2 linked regions of the Homo sapiens genome follow. The protein of the gene in region 1 purifies or fractionates together with the protein of each later gene. This does not show direct contact. Each region holds a gene or a part of one and is shown on either strand. Other genes may lie near its edges.

Region 1 (5,177 bases):
GGTCCCACCTCTACCCCAAATGGCCAAACCTTAAAAAAGGTTCTAGAAAGGAGGCAAGTTAATGCTCTTCCCAGGAACCCCAAAGAGCACAGAGGCAGCAACCGAACTGCCCCTCCCACACCTCCTCCCAAACCAGCTGTCTACAGGGAAATCTGCGCATTGGGATCAGAAGGCATGAACTGGGAGAGAGAGCCTAGCAACCTGCTTGCCCCCCGCCACCACGCACACAAACATACCAAAGCTCGTTGAGGAAAAGGAGATGCTGTGCTCCCAGACACATCCCACTGGACGCAGGACAAAGTCACAGGATCCAAGGCCTCAGGCAGGAGCACCACCCTAAGGACCTTCCACTCACCTGACTGCTTCTCCTTCCTCTTTCTCCTCCACACACAGAAGCAGGCAAGGGTGCCAAGGAACAGTGCGCTTAGAATCACGATGATCACCAAAAACGGCCAAAATCTGAATTCTGAGGAATACAGAAGGCGTGAGAACTGAGCTGTCAGCTCGCTCTCTTCTTCCTTCCCACCTGCCTGCTGCAGGGGCTGCCTCAAAACCCACTTTTCTCTGTGTTGTGGCTGATTGCCTCGTGCTCTGAGAACTCACGGTCAAGGTTTTCTCTTTGCTCATTTGGTTAACCTCCTCTGAGTGATGCCAAGAGCATAGATATATCAGACAGGCCTGGCTCAAATTCTAACCCTGTGAGCTCTGCACTATTTATTTAACCTCTCTGGGCCTCTCAAGTCATCTTATTTTTGGAAGATGCCTCAGAGCCTCTTAGATTTTCTCACCTGTAAAAGGGGATAACGTTATCTACCTATAGGGGTTAATTACATGATCTAATACAGTTGCCCTCCAAAGTTTTGAGTTCCACAATGTGGATTCAATGAATTGTGGATCCAGAATATTCAGGGAAAAAAAATGCATGTGTATTGAATATGTAGAGGCCTTTTTCCTTGTCATTATTCCCTAAACAATACAGTATAACAACTATTTAAATAGCATTTACATTGTATCAGGCATTATAACTAATTTAGAGGTGACTTAAGTAAGGTATACAGAAGGATGTGTGCATAGGTTATATGCAAAAACTGCACCTGTTTATGCCAGGGACTTAAACATTCGTGGATCTTGGCATCTGTGGTTGCGAGGTGGGTCCTGGAACTAATTCGTCATGGATACTGAGGGACATGTAGCACAACAAATGTTACATTTATCCATTCCTTTGTTTTTAACTCAAAAAATACTCATTGTACAGGCAAGTTTTCCGTCTCACTTTTCCACTATTCCTTCCTTCATGGCTCTTCCTCATTTGAACTTCTACTTAAAAGATTTGTGTCACACATGTAGCCTGATATATAATCCAGCCAACAAGAGGAAGGAAAAGGAATTAAGTGTTCCAAGGGCTGACAAGGCTCTTTGCAAACATTATCTCATTTACTCTTAACAGCAATCCTGTGAGGTACTTATTATCACCCCCATTTTACTCAAGGGGGGAAGAAAATTGAGGCTCAGAGAGGTTAATGAATCTGCCAGAGATCACAGAGCTTCTTTTTTTTTTTTTTTTAAATAGAGATGGGATTACACCATATTGTCCAGGCTGGTCTCAAACACCTGGACTCAAGTGATCCACCTGCCTCAGCCTCCCAAAGTGCTAGGATTACATGTGTGAGCCACCACACCTGACCTCTAAGAGATCACAGAGCTTCTGAATGATGAAGCCAGTGTCCTAGTTCAGTGGCATGATCTTGACTCACTGCAACCTCCGCCTCCTGGGTTCAAGCAATTCTCCTGCCTCAGCCTCCTGAGTAGCTGAGATTACAGGTGCCCGCCAACACGCCCAGCTAATTTTTTGTATTTTTAGTAGAGACAGGGTTTCACCATGTTGGCCAGGCTGGTCTCAAACTCCTGACCTTGTGATCCACCCACCTCAGCCTCCCAAAGTGCTGGGATTACAGGGAGCCACTGCGCCCGGCCTGCCTCAGTCTTGTTTCTTTTTTGTCCACAAGTAGTTATTTTTGTTGCCCCATTTGGCTATAAGTTCCTTATGAATGAGAGCTGTATGGTTTTTTTTTCCTATAATGCCCATGCTGCTGGTACATTAAGTCCCTGTTTATGTAATAAAAAGTTGTGGAACGGTAACTCAGGTAACTCTTAGGATGAGCATAAGCAACAGCCCAAGAACTCATCTAGGTATCCCTGGGGTCATCCTGATGCTCCTGCTCCAGGCTACTGCTGCACAGTGTAGTTACCTCTTGAACTATGTGGCTTGGAGAAAGTTATCACTCAAGAGGAGAGGACAGTTCTCCATCAGCCTCTCCCAGGAAGAAAATAATGTTCAGGAGCCATTTCAGGACTGTCACTCACCAAACAACTATGCCCTCCCTCTGCAGAAGAAAAGCTTGCATCTCCCAGAAGGAAATAGGGATAACATTTTTTTCCAGAGTAGGATAGGCCTAGCTTTACAGGAACTGTGTGCCTGGAGGCCAGGGCTACCCTGGGAAGGGCTACAAGGCACTGGGAGAGGAGGCCAAGGGATTTTATCTCATACCACATCTGTCTTGCACATGAGCCTGGTTGCGGGGTCCAAACCTTCAGCGCTTGTTATAGCCCAGTGTGTTCCACTTACCCTGATGGGCATTCTGACAGTCCTGAGTGAGATTCAGGGTGTGGCTTTCCCAGCTAACAGGATTGCTGACATTGCAGGTATATGTGTGAGTGCCATTAATGTCAACCTCCTCGTCCAGGTAGGTGAGGTTCCCTGCTGTCTGGATCAGCTTGCTCCCTCTGTACCAAGCATAGGACACATTGCCATCCCTGGAGACCAAGCAAGACAGAGCCACTTGGCATCTCCCTCTGTCCAGGATCTTCCCCTGCCCCTGTAGGCGGGGTTTCTCAACTTTATCTGGAAGCAGAGATTCTGATCAGAAAGGCATTGGAAATACAGAACTTAGAGGCCTATAGGAATCAGAGAGGGCAGTATGAACAGTCCTGGAGACTTACCAAATACAAAAACCTGGAACGTGGCTGTCTGAACTTTTCCAGATATACTGGTGACCTCCAGGCAGTAGAGGCCACTGTCCTGCTGCTGAGCTGCCTTGATGAGAAGACTCAAGTTCTTGACTATAAAACTGAATCTATCATTGGAAGTATTGGAAGGCAAAGAGCCATTCTCCCACTTCAATATGTGATGAAATCCATTTTGTGAGGGCAGCAACTTCTTCCATGCAATGCTGTCAACCTTCGTCTGTATGCTGTTTGGTTGTAACTGAAGAGGCACTCCCGAGATGCTAACCACATGGTCAGCTGATCCCTGGCATCCTAGGAAAGAGAACCCAAGCTGAAAGTAGCGGGAAGAGTGTCAGGCCTGAGCAATGTGGGCAGCTGGATGTGACTTCCCTTAAGCCAATTGGGTGGGGATGAGTATGAGGAGCCCAGAACCTAGGAGCACCTTAAAGCATATCCCCTCCATCTGCCTCCCCTTGTCCCCAAGCTCTGTGTCCCTAGTCTGAGGGATCCCATAGACCAATAGCTAAAATCTTGAGTACTTACTATGTGACAGGCAGGTTTCACACTTTATACATTTTAACTATTTAAGTTAAAAGGTATGATGAGTTAAAAGAATGATGAGCCTGAAACCTAGTCAGTTTGGTGTTATGTTTTTGTTTTCTTTTGTTTTGTTTTCTAGAGACAGGGTCTCACTCTGTCACCCAGGCTGGAGTGCAGTGGCGCAATCACAGCTCACTGCAGCCTTGAACTCCTGGGCTTGAGGTGATCCTCCCATCTCAACCTCCCTAGTAGCTGGGAGCACAGGTGCTAGGGAGCTTATTTGTTTACTCTTTGTAAAGACAGCAGTTTGGCTTGAGAGGATAAATTCTTAACCATGATGCTATAAATACCACATCTAAGGTGACTCCCTCCAAGCAGTGCTGAGGCAACTACTAATGGCAAGTAGTGACTGTTGGAAATTCTGAATGGTCAGGCCCAGGAAGACTAACCGTCCAAGCTGAACTCATGGCCCCTCAACCATCCTCTCACAGAGCTGAATACATAATCCTCTCTCGTGGCACTTGGTTCATTGGATTTTGGTCATTACTTATTGATGTTTGCCAGTTTTTCAGTGATCAGAAAGTCTCCACAAAAATTTCTCCCTAGAAAACAATTTTAAAAATAAAACTACACTTCCCAGGCAGATCCCAGCACTTGCCTCTCAAAGAATCAAGATGAAACCTAATGAATATGGGGGTGTGACAACCTAGAGCAATTCTGTGCAGTCAGTGTACAAAACTGGAAGTTCCTACAGCCATTTTTAGTAATAAAGCTATGTGGCATGGCCCAGCAGGTGCAGGAAATTAAAAAGTCTCTCTGGGTGAGTTGGGGAGGCTCAGGGAGGATTTGGAAGAGAAAATAAGAGATGGGGAGAGTTTTACAAGTGGCTCCGTTAAAATGGAGGCTATTAAGAAGAGAGCAATTGAGACAGAGGGGTTTTTATATGTCCAGTGCATTATGAATGCAGTCTCTCCAAGCCACAGCTTCACCCTGGCATTTTCTCAAGAGACTAAGTAAATAATTAAAGGACTTGTAATACTATTTGTTTGATGAAATATGTTTCTTTGATCTTGATGCTCCTAAGACTAAAACACATAGGTTCCCATTTATATTTATATGACTTGTACTGGCTCTGCCCATTAGCAAACCAAAAGCTTCTCAAAAGCAGAGACTGTGCTGTGCATCTCTGTGTCTCTGTCTCCTACGATCCTAGCACTATTTATAAGAACAAGTCAACCTACCAAATATTGCACAAAGACCCTGAGAACAAAGGTGAATGGAAAAAATCATTACTAAACCTACAAGGAGGACATATACTGTCTTCATCAATTATTCAGTCCTTACTGAGTCCCACTGCAATCCAGCCCCTGAAGAGGCAGGGCCTCTTCATGTATAAGGCATGATTCCTGACTCCAGAGAGTTTGTGATCTGGAAACAGAACACTTTCATTCTACAGCATCCCCTTAATTGTTGAGATAAAAAATCATCGAAGGAATTCTAATTATGTAATGAAAATCCAGGTTAAGACATGCTAACCAATCCTCCCACTAAAAATAGCTAGAAGAAAAATGAACAACATGTAAAAGCACATTGTTAAAGTTATCAGAGAGTTTATAAAGCAGTGAAAAATT
Region 2 (5,177 bases), on another chromosome or scaffold:
TCAAAAAAAAAAAAAAACTAATTATTGTGGCCAATTGCAGAACACTTGGTTAGCAGTGTCTACTTAGTGGATAAATTTTTGTCCGTTTTGCTCAGGGTTTAGTTTTAGAGCATTCGAATCCCTCTCTTCGCCTTTAAACCCAGAATGGTTTTCCTCTTTGCCTTTTTTGGGGAGGGTGGGGCACTGGACAGGGTGGGTAGACTCAAAATTCTTTCAATCTAAATAGCTTTAAAGGCTTTAAAAATTTCCTGTCTTTCTCTGATTTCTGTCCTGGCTTCTTAGGCATCTCTCCAGCTGGACAAGAAACGGTAGATGCAAATCTGCAGAAACTCACACAACTTGTAAATAAGGAATCCAACTTGATTGAAAAGGTCAAGTCTACTTCAATCATTTTATCATAGTTCAGTATTTTCCTTTCGGTAGCTAATATTGTCATTTGGGTCACACATTAACTGTACCCTTTTAGTTTTTTTTATAGAGTTTGTTTTTCAGAAAACTGTTTAAATATACTTTCACTAAAGTTGTATGTAACATAGTGTTTTGAAGCCAACAGTGGCCTGATTGGGGAAAGATCAGATAAGAGTATTGGGTTTACTTTTGCCACACAGTTAGTACCCTTTAAGCTAGGAAATCCAAAAGATTTGCTTTAAAAAAACAAAGCGGCCGGGCGCGGTGGGTCACTCCTGTAATCCCAGCTCTTTGGGAGGCCGAGGCGGGCAGATCATGAGGTCATGAGATCGAGACCATCCTGGCTTATACGGCGAAACCCCGTCTCTACTAAAAATACAAAAAATTAGCCGGGCATGGTGGCGGGCGCCTGTAGTCCCAGCTACTCAGGAGGCTGAGGCAGGAGAATGGCATGAACCCGGGAGGCGGAGCTTGCAGTGAGCTGAGATCGTGCCACTGCACTCCAGCCTGGGCAACGGAGCGAGACTCCATCAGAAAAAACACAAAAAAAAACAAAGCAAAAACACTTCTTGCTTGTGTGTCTGCCTCTCTGTCTCTTAATGTTTCTTAAGATTGTAAGCACTGGGCTTATCCTTTCTTATTAACAGCACCGTGTTCTTTTCTTCTTTCCACATGAAAGTTTTATTTTTTTCTCCTTCTTGTTCTTCTCTGCTCTAGATATAGTTTATAGTTTTTTCACCAGTGTAGATATTTTGCCACTTGGGGTGTTCTTTTCATGAGAGAAACATTGAGGAACTGGGTAGGGGAGAGAACCAACAAAGGAAATTTCAAGTGTGATTCTACTAGGAAAAATACAAAGAGGTTACATATTTTTTCCCCTGTAACTGATAAGCTTGCTTTTTTTTTTTTTCCTGATACAAATAGTAATACTTACTATTTTACAAACTCATAGGGCAATGAGGCCTGATGACACTGGCTAACAGTTTTTGAGGTCCACCACTGTGTTATTTGAGCTTGATGTGGGTTACCTCATTTAGAAGTGATCCAGTGTTTGGAAAACCACTGGATTACATTTAAAGAATTTATCTTTCTTTTTGCCTAATGTACTAGCTTCCTTTGGTCTACATATTCTCAGTTTTAAAAAGCTGGTCTTTTTTGATTGGAATACAGGTCATTTTCATTGAGGTAAAGAAGTATAGTTGAAAGAATAATAGTTTTGGAATCAGAAGACCTGGGTTCAAGTTTCAGCTCTCATACTAGCTTGTGACGTGGGGCAAATCACTTAACCTTACAGAGTCTCGTTTTGCTCATCTGTACAACAGAGAAGGTCTGTGTCTGCCTTTTCTTCATAGCGTATCGGGAAGATCAAATAAGATACTGTACGTGAACATAGTTTGCAAACTGGAGCTTAGTGTAACAGTACCGCTTTTACACTTACTATCAGAAGACCTCTTTAAGTTATGGTTGAGTTCAGTAGAATATTTATTTTGTGGAATTAACTATAATTCTGTGAAGGTATCAGGAATGAGCCACGTTGCTTTTTACAGAAACTGAGTCAGCTGGTATTTGAGGTATGACATTTAGAATTCTTGAGATTATTTGTAAGAAAAAGGTTTCTCTAGCAGCCCAGGAAACATATGGTTCTGTACTCTTCTAGGCTATAGTTTGGATGGGGAGGCCACAGTCCACATAAGCGGTGCCACAGCATTAGTCAGATGTATCTTTTGTACTTTCTACAGATGGATGACAATCTTCGCCAAAGCCCTCAGCTTCCTCCTCGGAAACTGCCAACACTTAAATTGACTCCAGCAGAAGAAGAAAATAATTCCTTCCAACGGCTTTCGCCCTGAGAGTAGTCATGGTTTGTGGCCAAAGTCAAACGATTGTTGCAGTAATCTCTTACACCAAGTGTGTGAAGGCAAAAAGAAGATACCATAATAGGTATTAAGGAAGACTCTAAACCAAAAGGAACTTTCTATGCCATCTATTTTTACTATTATTATTAGGAAGCTTGTATTCTAGCTTGGCACTGCATTTTTAATAACAAAGAGAATGCTAAATGAACTTGGTTGGGGGGGCGGGGAAGAAAAACACATCGTACTGTATACAAAGAACTGCCTTAATCATGGCAGATTTTTGCCTTTGGTTCACATGTTGCTGACCAAAGGCTACAATTCTGTTCTGAATGTGCACTCCTAATTTATTTGATTTAATTTATTCAATTTATTAACTTAGTTTTCTTAGACCAGGCTGAATACCTAATATGTGGCTTTTTGGCTGAGGCTTTTTACTTCTGTTTAGAAATTTGATGCCTATTTTAGGAACCAGAAAAAGATAAATTGCTTCAGTAGAAGAGACCATATTTAACTTTAAAAAGTGAGGAGGAATGTGCTTTTTAATTATGCTCTCATAAGTCTAATCTTTTGGGGGTTTAGTAGCACATAGATAAATATTAAAGGTGGTTACATATAATAACATCTGATAATACTCATTTCAGTATAACATTGGTCTTTGCTGATGTGTTCGATATAGGTTAGGAAGAGTTCTTTTAGTTTACTTGGGCAAATGTGGCAGTTTTAGACCTATGTCTTTGTAGTACATCTTCAGTTGTCTTTCTTGTATTAATTCCAGAAGAAGTGAATGTACTGGTTATCGTTACTATGCTAGGCTGTAAAATTCTTACTGAAATTGCCCACTTGTTAGACACTACTCAGGAGGAGCCCATGGCCAGGGTAGTAGAAATACTGTGCATCTGGTCCAAGTTTTCTATGCTTGGCTCATATTCTTTCATAAGATGCATATTCTTTCATAAGATGCATATCATGTAGTCAAAAGCTTTCTGACAACCAATTATTTTTCATATGTTTCACTTATAGTCGAAGAATACAAAGGAACAATCAGAAATAGCAGCTTTTAATGAATATTTTCTATTTATTGGTTGCTGAACTGTTAAGGGATTTGCTGTGTGGTAATTTTACTTATAATAGAAACTTGCTTATTTTAGTGGTTGAGGTGCTTCTGTTGTCCTAAAACTACTTCTGAGGTTTTTAAAATGTAGAACCATGTTTTTGATTAGTGTCTTAAAAGATTACTGTGGTGCTCAGCAAATCTTATCAAGTCGTGCAGGAACCCATATGTTAAGAAAATGAGCTTTGTAGTCAAAAGACTCATCTAATTTGAGCTGAGTGGAGCTCAGCTGTGTTTGACCCACATCCTCCCAATTTGTTCTGTATTTAGGTAGTTATTTATACAAGAGTCTTTAAGTCATTCTAAATATTTTTTCTTGAAAGTTTTAACTAAGTGAGAAATAAGGTAGTCTTCAAAATCTTGGTCATCTGTTTGGATGAGGGAAAGTACCTCATGAGTTGCACATTACTTCTACAACAGGGTGTGTGTGTGTGTGTTTGTGTGTGTCAGTCATCTTCAAAGGCAGATTATTAGATTCCAGCAATCTGAAATCTATTATTCCAGCAGTCTGAAACCTAAATATGTTATATTGGAAATCATGACTGTGAGACTTTATTGTCCTCTAGGATGGATGTATATTGGAGAAGGGTGGTTAGCACATTCATCAGACATCTGCTTATGCTGTGGTCAAGGCCAGTCATTTTTAATTTATATCAGATTTATATCAGACCCTCCAAAAAGTATTTGAAATATATTACAGTTATAACGTACAAGTACATTACATGTATATTACAAGTATATTACATGTAAAACAGGACAATTTAAAAATTTTAAATTTTAAAGAATTAAAAATTTTAAAAATTTAAATTAAAAAAATTAAAAATTTATAGAACCATATCAACACTGACAGATTCTAAAATTAAGTAGTAAATTTAACTCCAAGTTTCTCCATGGGCAAAGTCAAAAGATAATGCTAGGTTATGTCAATTTTTCTTTTCAACAAAACTGCTAATGTCTATTAGGAAGAAAAATGTGTTTAAAGTTTTACAGGAACGTGGAGCTCATGTTCTTCTGATATGTAGACTTTGATAAAGAAGCATACTGTAATGTTTTATGAACTGAAATTTTAATCAAAAGAGGTCATTTTAGAATAACAAGTATTATTCTTTTTTAGTAGAGGGAATGACTGTCAATATGATTTATTTGTTTTTGTGTCATCCCTACTTTGAACTGCTGTTAGCCTTACATTCTCACTATAGTCCATAATGCTTCCAGATCACCTTTTCTAAGATGCAACATGTGAGTTTAGTGAGAGTTTATATGTTGGGTTACTTAGTTGAGCTATTTATGTATAAGTAAATGAGATGACAGGAAGCTGTAACTGAGCACAAAGTACTTTAGGGAGCAGCCACACATACAGGAAGCTCTTAGAAAAGAACTTTTTTTTTTTTTTGAGACAGAGTTTCACTCTTGTTGCCCAGGCTGGAGTGCAGTAGCGCAGTCTCGGCTCACTGCAACCTCTACCTCCTGGGTTCAAGCAAGTCTCCTGTCTCAGCCTCCCAAGTAGCTGGGATTACAGGCATGTGCCACCATGCCCAGCTAATTTTGTTTTTTTTTTAGTCGAGACGGGGTTTCACCATGTTGCTCAGGCTGGTCTTGAACTCCTGACCTCAAGTGATTCACCTGCCTCGGCCTCCCAAAGTGCTGGGATTACAGGCGTGAGCCACTGCGCCCGGCCAAAAAGAACATTTTGTCAATCTGAACAGAGCACAGAACATTTTTTCAGACTGAACAGACTGTTGGACCAGCCTGTCATGATATGTTTTAGATAAAGTTTGAGTGAGTTCATTGGGATAAATGGT

Evidence for each region. Proteins that work in one complex are often made in the same cells at the same time.
Region 2: the proteins of CD244 (region 1) and MTX3 purify together in Homo sapiens (affinity purification with mass spectrometry; 3 studies listed by BioGRID and IntAct, with this or other methods). This does not show direct contact.

The regions. Positions count from the first base shown.
Region 1 is NC_000001.11:160,838,584-160,843,760, forward strand, and holds part of CD244 (natural killer cell receptor 2B4 isoform 1 precursor), read right to left. Parts: intron 3,319-5,177; coding exon 3,001-3,318; intron 2,918-3,000; coding exon of another isoform or gene 2,903-2,917; coding exon 2,627-2,902; intron 467-2,626; coding exon 356-466; intron 1-355. UniProt on the Homo sapiens protein: Heterophilic receptor of the signaling lymphocytic activation molecule (SLAM) family; its ligand is CD48.
Region 2 is NC_000005.10:79,980,765-79,985,941, reverse strand, and holds part of MTX3 (metaxin-3), read left to right. Parts: intron 1-282; coding exon 283-371; intron 372-2,147; coding exon 2,148-2,258; 3' UTR 2,259-5,177.